Homo sapiens: one gene and its partner. The protein of the gene in region 2 purifies or fractionates together with the protein of the main gene of each other region. This does not show direct contact. Each region holds a gene or a part of one and is shown on either strand. Other genes may lie near its edges.

Evidence for each region.
Region 1: the proteins of ITGA9 (region 2) and EVPL purify together in Homo sapiens (affinity purification with mass spectrometry; 2 studies listed by BioGRID and IntAct, with this or other methods). This does not show direct contact.

The regions. Positions count from the first base shown.
Region 1 is NC_000017.11:76,024,283-76,031,648, reverse strand, and holds the start of EVPL (envoplakin), read left to right. Parts: upstream 1-4,342; 5' UTR 4,343-4,450; coding exon 4,451-4,548; intron 4,549-7,366. UniProt on the Homo sapiens protein: Component of the cornified envelope of keratinocytes. May link the cornified envelope to desmosomes and intermediate filaments.
Region 2 is NC_000003.12:37,819,113-37,824,009, reverse strand, and holds the end of ITGA9 (integrin alpha-9 precursor), read right to left. Parts: 3' UTR 503-4,897; downstream 1-502. UniProt on the Homo sapiens protein: Integrin alpha-9/beta-1 (ITGA9:ITGB1) is a receptor for VCAM1, cytotactin and osteopontin. It recognizes the sequence A-E-I-D-G-I-E-L in cytotactin. ITGA9:ITGB1 may play a crucial role in SVEP1/polydom-mediated myoblast cell adhesion.

The sequences.
Region 1 (7,366 bases), on a different chromosome or scaffold from region 2:
TGCCTGGCTAATTTTTTTGTTTTTGTAGTTTTAGTAGAGACGGGATTTTGGTTTTTTTTTGAGACGAAGTCTCACTCTGTCACCCACGTCACCCAGGATGGAATGTAGTGGCGCAATTTTGACTCACCTCCACCTACTGGGTTCAAGCAATTCTACTGCCTCAGCCTCCCAGGTAGCTGGGATTACAGGCACCCACCACAACGCCTGGCTAATTTTTGTATTTTTAGTAGAAATGGGGTTTCACCATGTTGGCCAGGCTGGTCTCGAACTCCTGACTTCAAGTGATCCGCCCTCCTCGGCCTCCCAAAGTGCTGGGATTACAAGCGTGAGCCACTGCCCGGCCAAAAAAAAAAAAAAAAAAATATATATATATATATATATATATATATATATTTTTTTTTTTTTTTTTTTTTTTGAGGTGGAGTTTCGCTCTTGTGCAATGGCGCGATCTCGGCTCACCGCAACCTCCACCTCCTGGGTTCAAGCAATTCTCCTGCCTCAGCCTCACAAGTAGCTGGGATTACAGGCATGTGCCACCACGCCCATGCCTGGTTTTGTTATTTTGTATTTTTAGTAGAGACGGGGTTTCTCCATGTTGGTCAGGCTGGTCTCAAACTCCTGACCTCAGGTGATCTGCCCGCCTTGGCCTCCCAAAGTGCTGGGATTACAGGCATGAGCCACCCCACCTCGCCAAAAGAAAGTTTTTTTTAACTGCAAGCAAAGAGACATGGCAGAAGCCAGGGCTTAGGAGGGTTGAAGGTTGGGGCATCCTATCTAACTTCCAGGCCAGAGCTGTCTGAAGGAATCCTGATGAGCCCCAAATGCAAGCTTCATTTGTCACTTTAAATTTATCAGTAGCCACATTTTAAAGAGTAAAAAGCAACAGGTCAAAATTTAAAATATGCCTGTAACCCCGGATCATGAGGTCAGGAGTTCGAGATCAGCCTGACCAACATGGTGAAACCTCATCTCTACTAAAAATACAAAAATTAGCCGGGTGTGGTGGCGCGCGCCTGTAGTCCCAGCTACTCGGGAGGCTGAAGTAGGAGAATCACTTGAACCTGGGAGGTGGAGGTTGCAGTGGGCCGAGATTGTGCCACTGCACTCCAGCCTGGGCGACAGAGCAAGACTCTGTCTCAAAAAGAAAAAAACTAAAACTAAAAATACATTTCATTTAATTCAACATATCCAAAATATTTCAATATGTAATCAATAGAAAAATTAATGAGATGCTTTACATTCTTTTTTTCTTTTTTTTTTTTTTTTTTTAGATCGAGTTTCGCTCTGTCTCCTATGCTGGAGTGCAGTGGCGCGATCTCGGCTCACTGCAATCTCCGCCTCCAAGATTCAAGTGATTCTTCTGCCTCAGCCTCCCGAGTAGCTGGGATTACAGGCACGCGCCACTACGCCCAGCTAATTTTTGTATTTTTAGTAGAGACGAGGTTTCACCATGTTGGTCAGGCTGGTCTTGAACTCCTGACCTCGTGATCCGCCCACCTTGGCCCCCCAAAGTGCTGGGATTACAGGCATGAGCCACCGCAGCTGGTCGTTTTACATTCTTTTTCCATAGTACGTCTTTGAAATCTGGTGTGAATTTTGCACATATAACACATCTCACTTCGGTCCGGGCACCTTCAAATGCGCTACAGCCACACACAGCAGGAGTTGTGGTTGCAGAAACGGACGCTGAGGGTCTTGACCCAGGCAGTCAGCCCCATCTTGACCTTTTAGATAAAGGGCTCCTTTCTCTCCAAAGGGTGAGGCCAGAGGTGAAGCACAAAGACAGCCATGCCTCACTCTGTGTCCCTGTCCTTTCTCCTGTTTTCTTCTGGGGCCAGGGTTGCTGCCATCTGACAGGAGCATCCCACGTGAGAGGACGCCTCAGGACTCAGGGTGTTCCTGCCTGCCGCCTGGCAGCCCTTATCAGAGGAGCGGGGCCTGATTTGATCCAGCATGAGAAGATCACGCCAGGAAGTCAGCTCTTGTTTTTCTTGCAGTAAATCAGTTAGCCCTTAATCTCCGGGGCGTGTGAGGGCCCCCTGCAGTGCTCATTTCCTTCCTGGAGGGCTTCTGAAGAGGGGAGGAAGCTCGAGTGTTCCAGACCTCAGACTCGCTGCCCTCCGCCCAGGGCACCTCCCCCTGCACAGCTCAGGGGCCTCACCCGGCTGCTCTCTGTCTGGAGTCTGGACACCTCTCCCCAGGGCCCCACTTCCAATGACTGCCACCTCCCAGGGAGGGGCCAAGCTCAAAGGTGAAGCAGGCGGGCTCAGTGGCTGATGCCTGTAATCCCAGCACTTTGGGAGGCTGAGGTGGGCGAATCACCTGAGGTCAGGAGTTCGAGACCAGCCTGGCCAACGTGGTGAAACCCTGTCTCTACTAAAAATACAAAAAATTAGTCGCGCGTGGTGGCGGGCGCCTGTAATCCCAGCTACTCGGGAGGCTGAGACAGGAGAATCACTTGAACCTGGGAGGCAGGGGTTGCAGTGAGCCGAGATGGCGCCACTGCACTCCAGCCTGGGAGACAGAGCGAGACTCAGTCTCAAAAAAAAAAGAAAGAAAAGAAAAAGGCGAGTCAGGGAGGCCAGGGGTGAGGCTGGCGTTGGCCCCCGTAGTCATTCACACAAACGGCTCCTTTCTGAAGACAGCTGATTGCAGGTGTGCAATGAGTGGCTAGAAGACAAGTGTCACCAGGAATAAAGTGGGAGCAGGCTGGGGCAGAGGCTGAGTGGCCAGTCATCCCTGGTGCCATCTCACTCAAGACACGGGCTGGGAGCCAAGGACACTGGAGACCTCTTTGTTTCCTCATTGCTGTCAGGGGCTGCCACTGCCCTCCCCACCCCTACTGCCCCTGTCAGCTCCTCCACCTCTAGGAATGGGGGTGTCCTGCATCCCCTCTCCACGGCCGAGTTCAGGGACTTCCCATGAAATTCAGCCAAAAAGGGCGCAGGACTTTTCTATCCCATGGGGGCCTGAGGCCAGTATCAGGCGTCGGTCCCTGGTCTCCCCCGTCTGCTGGGATCTTTCTCTCCTGCCAGGCTGTGCTTTGTCCTCAGCGAGGCCTGCCAGGATGTCCAGGTGATGTCACCCAGTCAGTCTGTTCCATCCCCTGGCTCCCCCTCAAGCCCTCCTTCCACTAAAACCACGGGGGTTTCAGGAATGACCTGGAAAGCGACGCCACCCCGCAGAAGGGGCCTGTTACGCTGGGCCAGTGAAATGAGCGCCTGGAAAGGGGGGTGCCATCGCCTCTTTCTTGAAGACGCTCAGGGCCACCACAGAAGGAAAAGGCAGCAGCCCTGGTACCCAGTGTGAGGAAAAGACCAATAAGCTGGCATCACTGTCTGCCACTCAATCTGACTTCATAAAAGCCACCAGGGGCCATTTCTGGGTGGGGGAAGAGGCAGGTAGGAAAAGCCAAGTGCATCAGGCTCCCGGGCCTCAGCCAGAGCCCAGGCTTACTGGCGCCTGAAGCCAGCCCTGGTGCTGCTGCACTGTGCACACTTTATAAAATGGGGCCAGGCGTGGTGGCTCATGCCTGTGATCCCAGCATTTTGGGAGGCCGAGGCGGGTGGATCACTTGAGGTCAGGAGTTCGAGACCAGCCTGGCCAACATGGTGAAGCCCCTTCTCTGCTAAAAATACAAAAATTTTCTGGGCGTGGTGACGGGCACCTGTAATCCCAGCTACTCAGGAGGCTGAGGCAGGAGAATCGCTTGAACCCGGGAGGTAGAGGTTGCAGTGAGCCGAGATCATGCCATTGCACTCCAGCCTGGGTGACAGAGCGAGACTTTGTCTCTTAAAAAAAAAAAAAATGGACCTTGTGCCAGTTGTCTGGAGTGAACGTCCCCTGACTGCCCCATCATGTCAGTGGAGAACAGAGAGTCAGGCCCTGGGCTGGCAGGACACCCCCTCCTCTCCTGGGGGATTGAGAGCTGTGGGTGGGGGCCTGCCTGGCAGCAGGTCCTCTGAGCTGGCTGGAGGTGTTTATTAATCCTGAGCTCCGGGGCTGGGGCCTCTCCGCTGAGCCTGCACCTGCATGTGCACGTCTGTCTCCAGCCCTGTCTGTCCTGGCCCAACTCCTTCCCTATCTGGGTGTGATCGCCGCTGCGCTCCCCTAGGCATGTGGGTGTAACAAGTCCAAACCTTCTGTGGGAGTCGGGCAGGCTCGGCCCCGCCCTCAGGGCTGTGCCCTTTCCTCCCAGACTGGTTGTGCAGGAGGAGGCATGAGTGTGGCCGTTGTGGGTGCATGCGCGTCAGGCCTGGGACCCGGCCGCCCGCCCGCTGCCTCACCTGCAAGGAGGGGCCTCCCAGAAACTCCCTTCCCCAGTGCCCAGCCGCCCCACCTCGCCAGACTTAGCTGACCAGCCAGTGAGGACGCCCGCTGCCTCCCACCTGCCCTCCTGCCGTCTTTCGCCAGCCAAGCCCAGCCTGAGCCAGCACTTGCCTTTACGACCATGTTCAAGGGGCTGAGCAAAGGCTCCCAGGGGAAGGGGTCCCCCAAGGGCTCCCCCGCCAAGGGGTCCCCCAAAGGCTCCCCCAGCAGGCACAGCCGGTAAGTGGGACTGGGGGATGGGGAGCCGGGGAACTGGGGTGGGGGTGGTGCCAGGCCCAGGTCCTTGAGCCACCTGGCGGCGGCGGCGGCCCAGAGCCCAGGACCAGCCCCGTGCTGGCATTTGGTGTCCTGAGGCCAAAGGGCCCAGGGATGGACTCTCTCCCTGCCTTGGGAGCCGCAGGCCCAGGCCGAACTTCAGCCCTGGCAGGAGGCAGGGGATGACCTGGGGCTCCCTACATCCTCTAAGGGGGCCTGAGGGCCACGGATTGAGGCCGCTTCGCGGGAGAAGTGCTGGACAGGAGCCTGCACGGAGGCCCTCCTCTGCCAGAGGCTGGGAGACAGGAGAGCCTGGGAGACAGGAGAGCCTGGGAGACAGGAGAGCCTGGCTGCCTGACTGCAGCTCTGCCCCAAGGCTCTACTTGGCTGGGATGACCCCTGGAGCCTGGGTACAGGGCATGAGGACTGAGGGGACGGGGTGGGATCCCTGGGGTAGGGATGCAGGGGCTGTGCTGCCTCCTGCCTAAGCCACAGCCCTCCCCAGAGTTCTCACCCAGGGCCTTGTTGTATTGAAGAGTTAGGGGTTCATGGCCGGGCGCCGTGGCTCACGCCTATAATCCCCGAACTTCAGGAGGCCAATGCGGGAGGATTCCTTGAGCCCAGGAGCTCGAGACCAGCCTGGACAACATAGGGAGATCTTGTTTCTGTAAAAAAATAAAAATAAAAAATAGCCAGGCATGGTGGCTCGTGCCTATTGCTTGAGCCCAGGAGTTTGAGGCTGCAGTGAGCCATGATCACACCCCTGCGCTCCCGCCTGGGTGACAGACTGAGACTCTGTCTTAAAAAAAAAAAAAAAAAAAATCCTGGCGCAATACCTCACGCCTGCAATCCTACAACTTTGGGAGGCCGAGGCGGGTAGATCACTTGAGCCCGGGAGTTCGAGACCAGCCTGGGCAACATGATGAAATCCCGTCTCTACAAAAAATATACAAAAATTATCTGGATGTAGTGGCGCATGCCTGTAGTCAGAGCTACTTGGGAGGCTGAGGTGAGAGGATCACTTGAGCCCGGGAAGTCGAGGCTGCAGTGAGCCGTGATCACTCCACTGCCCTCTAGCCTGGGTGACAGAGCAAGACCCTGTCTGTTAAAACAAAATAGAGCTGGGGCTTCCTTTTCCAGTGGGTGTGGTGCAGGGGGCACTGGGCCTCCCTTGGACCACCCGGCTCTCTGGAGCCCAGCCTCAGCAATCTGTGGATGGATTGGGCGGTGTTCTTCCCACTCACTGGCTTCAGCTCGTCTGCAGAGGAGGCAGCAGCCCGCCTGGGTCCAGGGTGTCGAGATGACCTCAGGGATGAAAGGCTGGTGTGGGAGTGGGGGTGCCCATTACCCCGATAGGGATCAAGGCACCAACAGACACCGAGGCTGGGTGTCTGGGCGGACGGGAAAGACAGTGGTTAAGACTCTCAGCTAACACTCTCGCTGAGTGACCTGTCCTCCCTGGGGCACCTGAGCCCCACCCAGGGTGGAGTGTGCAGCTCCCGGTGGGAGCAGCCATCCCAGGAGGCGGGACCTGAGGAGGGGCGCCCAGGGCCCAGCACCTGCAGCTCCCACTGTCCAGGCAGGCTCCCCAGCAGTGCGCTCCTGGCCTGGGGCAGCTCCGTCCTCAGGGCCCTGTTGGCTCTCCCCTCACGTGCGATCCACTCGTTTGACATGAACTTACTGAGCACTTACTGTATGCCAGGACTGTTCTAGGCACTGGAGATGTCACTGTAGACAGAACCAACAAGCCCCTGCCTTCAAGGCACTAGCCCTCTAATGGGATAAAAACTAACACGTGCTGGGTGCCGACCCTGCACCAGGCCTGCACTGGACGTTTCAGATGGATAAATTCAATTAATGCTCACAATAGCCCTAAGGCATAGATATTTTTATTAAAATCCCGCTTTACAAGTGAGGAACCTCAGGCACAGAGAGGTTGAGTAACTTGACCAAGGTCAAGTCCATCATCTTTCTGATGGAGAAAGATGAAACCAGGGTGTCTTGGCCACAGAGTTCTTCCAGACTGCTGTGCCTTCACCAGCACTGTCCCTTTGCCTGGGGGGGCCCATCCTTTGACCCAGTTCAAGGCTTCTCCTGCCCCAGCATAATGATCCCCCATAAGGCACTGTGCTCATAAGGCTTGGACCAATCTGCCCTCTTTTAGGTCTGCTTGACCTTGTGACCTCCGCACAGTGAGTGCATGCACACAGCAGGTGCTCTATGGAGGCTGCAGGGCGAATGCACAGAAAAAGCCCTGGGGTGGAAGCAAGGTTTCCCCTCCACCCCTGACCATGTGACTCAGAGCAAGTCAGAGCCCAATCTGGGCTTTGAACCCTCAACTCTGGAGAATGTTAGGGTGCCCAGTAGTCTCTTGCGCCTGCCCCACCTCCCCGGCTCCGACAGTGTGAGGCTCCTCTAGATGGCTACTGAAGCCAGCATGCTGGCAAGGCTCCCTGGGGTGGAGGAGGTATAGGGGAACACAGGGCTGGAGTGCGAGGAGGTGGGGATGGGGGACATGCTGCTGCCTCCCTGCCCCAGCCAGCCCAACTACCCCTCCCAGGGCCCAGCCAGGCTGGCTCAGGTGCTAGTGGCTGAGCCGGTGATTCACTGGCTCGGGGAGGGAAGTGGCAGGTAGCTAGGTGGGGTCGGGAACTCACTGCCAGCACAGCTGGCTAAGGCTGGGACACCGAGGCCGCCTGCCCCCTCCCCAGCACCACACAAACCTGAGACCCTCACCTTTTGACCCCTCATGTGGCGGGGCAGTGCTAACACCCCCAACCAG
Region 2 (4,897 bases):
ATTGGAACCCCTATCTGGTAACAGTCTTGTCTAGGGAAAAAAAAACACATAAATGAACAGCATGTGGAATATGAACAAGAACATAACTATTAATAGACAGATGAAGGAGAGTGAAAACCTAAGAGAATACAATATTTGTAAATGTGTAAGAATGTTATCAAAATGCTTCTGGAAAAATGCTTAGTAACTGGCAGGCACATGTGAAAGAAGTCTACTGATAATAAGGAATCCATACCATTTAATTTGGGCACATTTATCTCAAGATCAAGAACCTAGGTGTAGCCCTGGGCCAGGGGAGTCAGGGTGATGCAGAGAGGAGGTGGTACCTCTTGTGTGGAGGCCAAGGACTGCAGACAGTTCAGCCACATCAGGTGGGTTGTTCATGTGAATTAGATGGACCTTGATGTTCTCTTTAATGCTCATGTTGTATTACATTGAAACCCTAGCTTCAACACTTTAAAAAGTTCTTATTAGCAAGTAAATTACAGATTGAACTTCTGAATTGTTTGCAGCCATTTTTTATTCCAAACATGTATGTTTTTGTAAACCTGACATTTCCCAAACAGTGCAAGTGAATCAGAAGTGACTGCTTAGACTTTAATACACGTGACATTGTGAGGCAGCACAACCTCCCCCCACCCACCAAAATTCCTCAGTGGAAATGTACATGGATGCATCAGTAAAGTTCTGGAAATGCAGATAGCGTGGGTGCCTGCCAAGCAATTAATCACTCGTAAAGCTTTTAAACTCACTCTGCCAGTCACACCGTGCACATTAGAATTAAAACAACAACATCAACAAAGAAAAAACCTTAACACAGTCTGAAATCTAGATCATTGTGCTATAAAGCATTGCACGATGTTGGGAAATTTGTTCACTTATTCCCCCCATGTGCTGAAAATTCAGAAGACATCCTAGAAGTTTCATTTTGGCCCTACTGGCTCTGTATTCTCCCTTCAGCCACTCTTTGAATATTCTCCACTGTGTATATTATTATTCTATATATCAAAATATCAGCTAAAAGTGTGCATACTAAAGCATTTCTGAAATGATGCTCACTTTCTGCCTTTTGTCTACTAAAGGCTCCAAGTGACAATCCTTTCCAGCACCTCTAAATTTTGAGAAGTTTGAGCCAAGTATACAGTTCACCAGATGTACGTTTCACACGTAACCCAGACATAACTGCATGCACCTGGCCATAATGCCTTACCCAAAAATAAAAGTCATAAATAACCTTTTAAAAAGCCACCATGCTAGGGTTCAACAGGTAGCATACAGCACACGGATCGTCTGGGGATCTGCTATGCTTCCGCATGGAAAACAGGATGTTCCCAGGAGTGCTGTTGGGTTTTTGTTTTAAACCTCATTGCCTTTGGCTCAAGGGCAGTAGCTACATGATTTGGTGAAGGAGGACTTCCTAGTGGATCTTCTACAAGGTCTACCATACCTCTGAGTACCCATGATGCTGACAGTTTTCCTAAAGAACTGCCTGAGGAAACCTCAGTGCTGAGTTATTCGGAATGGATGCCTGTCAGTTGCCACTAAGCCAGTGGACCCTGCCCCTCCTGCTAGTGTCCCCTTGTTTCTAAACATCATGGCCTCTTCTTTGTGACAGCTCTATGGCCCACTTGGAGGATGTTCCAAACTCTCCTGAGTCCTATGTAAATTAAGCATAAGCAAAACTTTTTTTAAAAAAGGGGCACTGTTTTACTCCATTTTTACAAAGGTCCTTTTTCATATTTAAAAACCATTTCAGTTCTCTGAACAGTTGGTTAAAACCACATTGAAGATTCAACTAAAAGCTGAAGGAAACTGAAATAATACTGCTCAGGAGAATATCTTATAGGATTCCACAGTGAAACCATGGAAGCAGGAAGGGGAGAAAGTAGAACATACTGTAGAATTTTCAAATAATATTCTGGAAGGGTAACACAGATGTACTGATCCACCCCATCTGCTTCCCCTGAGAGCATAGAGAGGGCTTCTGAGCTGGGAAGGAGCTTGTGAACTGCCCAAGTTGAGAGAGCGCTAACGATATGCTTGACTTCTCTATCACTGCACAAAATGCTTAACTCCCCAGTCCCCGTAGCCCACCTGCTACTCAGCACGATCAGACCAGCAGAGGCATCATCCTTCCCCAGACAGGTTCCTGGGGAGGCTTTCAGTATCTGCTGGTGGTGATGCCAAGGCTGGTTTTCTTAAAACCTGCCTTTATAAAGTCTTAGTGACCTCCTGGGTATACAGCTGCTCATGTGGGTCCACCCACGCAGAATCAAGCAGAAGCAAATAGGTCCCAGCTCTGAGACTGCCCACAGGAGTCTACCCTTCTCCAGTGGGGCTTTGCTGGTGGGCAGAACATGGGCCTGCGAATCACCCTTCTACACTGTCACCAACGCACCTACACCCCGGCAGGAGGCAAGTTAGTTGCTCTAAGTGCATGTGGCCAAAGCTGTTGATGGTGCTGTTCCAGAAATATCACCTAAGAATCCTAAATGATTCATTAAAGAAAACATGGCATTATGAACAAGAGTCCATCAAAGGAAAGCTGCAAATGGCATCCCATTCAAAAAGTCCACATGCCACTGCATTTTGCCACCCTGAGGCAAAATGTCCCTGAAGTGTTCTCTGGGGAACCTCCAGCACCTTGCACAGTGCCTGACACACAGCAGGGGCCTCATAAATGGCTGTTAATAAGTGATAAAACCCACCCAAGACTGCTTTTCTTGCTGCTTTTGATAAAACTCATAAGCGAACTCTGAGTGACAGCTGCTTTCTTTGCCTCGTCCTGCTCCCTGTAGCTACCTCTGTGCCTCCATCCCACAGTTAGATGCAACATCCCTGATTTCCAGGATCAGCTTAGTTCATGCCATTGACCCTTGATTTTTTTGGTCTATTCCCATGTTCACCAGGAAGAGAAGCATGAGGTTACATCTGTAATCTCCCTGCAGCAGAGTCAACTGCATAAGAAACCAAAAGACACACCTGCTCCATGCCAGGTTAGTACCCACCCATCACCCTCATAATTTTGCCAAAACTTTAGATATGTTTGTGAGTATTAGCCAAGTATGTGTATTAAAAATCTGTCTTCCCAGAAGTTGAGTTTGATGTCTTTTTGACAATGTTCACGGACTCCCAACGTGTTAGCTTCCAGTAAAAAAGGTGCTATAAGAAAGACCCTTGGTTTTATAGATTGTTTCATCCGCACTGGATGCCATGTGTATGTAGCTGGCACTTTGGCAGGCTGTAATAAGCCATTAAGACTCCGTTAGACCCTGCTCTTAGCCCCATGTTTTCTGTCTTATTAGATGGTTATCCATCAGTAGGAATAGCAGCCATAGCTGTTAACAGTTATTGAGTGATCACTATGGGCCAGGTCAGTGCTGAGCATGCTACATCCATCATCTCATTGCCCTTTCAGAAAATCACACTGCACTCAAAACTAAGCAGCACAGTGCATCTGACAATATATCTACTGTCAAACAGAGAGCTTGGATACTGAAGGCCGTAACTCAGCACTCACACATTCAGGGGGTGGGGAGGGGCAGTGTTCTGCTCAGATCCTTTGCATCATTTCTTTTGCATCATTTCCCTGTGTCTCCCCTGGCTGAGGATGCATCTGTGGTTGTCCTTTAGAGGACTGTCCTGAGCTACTGGAGCCATTACGCCAGCAGGAATTGAGAATAAAACGTTTACATCTCCTCTGGGTGCAGCCAGCCCCTTGATTCAGGTTGGGACACCTCTGAGGCCTAACTTTTCCTCCGGAGTTCCCCTGATCAGGCTGAGGCTAAACTTCATGGAGCTCTCCCTGAAATGACAAACATTTGCCTGGCTTTGTCTCCTTCCTTGTCCTGCTTCCCCCACTCTCTTACTGGTATCCCCTGGGAATACTTCCTTAATAAGTTACTTGCACACAAATCCTTGTTTCAGGGACTGCTTCTTGGGAACCCAATCTAAGACATTTTTTTTAAAACGGTTAAATGTCCTCTCTGGGAAGGAATCTGCAATCACCACTAGCTGGGACAGCCAGGGTGGTAGGGGAAATGAAGATCTCTCAATGAAAATTACCACAAAAAGGCAATCCCTCACAGCATTCAGACCCAATTCTTTGCTTAGGGGACAAGGATTTAGTCCTTGTGGTGTGTGAACTCTGATGCAGGATGTCCAGGATGAGACGCCATTCTGAGGTTTACCAGATGACCACATGGCATTGCTCCAAGCTTTCATCCATCATCTGTGTAGAAGCAGGGTGACATGTCTGCTATATAAAGGTGATACAGAGCAGACTTCTTGCTAGGGATCAGGTTTTCCATCCAAATTCTTGTTGGGAATCTTCCAATGAAAAGTACATATGAAAAAACACTTACAGTTCTTTAGCACACATTAGCATGTGACTCCACACTTGATCGAGGCGATAAAGATGTGAAATGTCTTCGGGGTCTTGCCACACCCACAGTTTATATGCACCACTGCCAGCCTGGTGGATTCATTACATGAGGTTTCTTCAACTTATTTCATCTGTCTTTTTAAACAGCAAGTTCCAAAGTACGGTAAGATTTTCATCCTTTAAAATTTGTATTCATGGACATGTACTTCCAAGATTTTAGGCCAGATATCAGTGCTTGAGTGAATTATATAACTATTTAATAGAAATAATAAAACATCGATACAAATATAAAAGACATAATCAGTATAAAAGGCTTATATTTATAAAAATACTTTAGGTAACAGTTTTCCCCTGAGGGTTGACCATGCGTGTTGCATCCATAAATATTGCTCGGCTCTGTAGCTCACTCTCCAAAGTTCAGAGTTCATCTTTAAAGGAAGTGGTGCTGGCCCCGGTCGTGTGACCTGGCCGAAGTGGCTGCCTCAGGCTGGCACCTGGGCTTGATAGAATGAA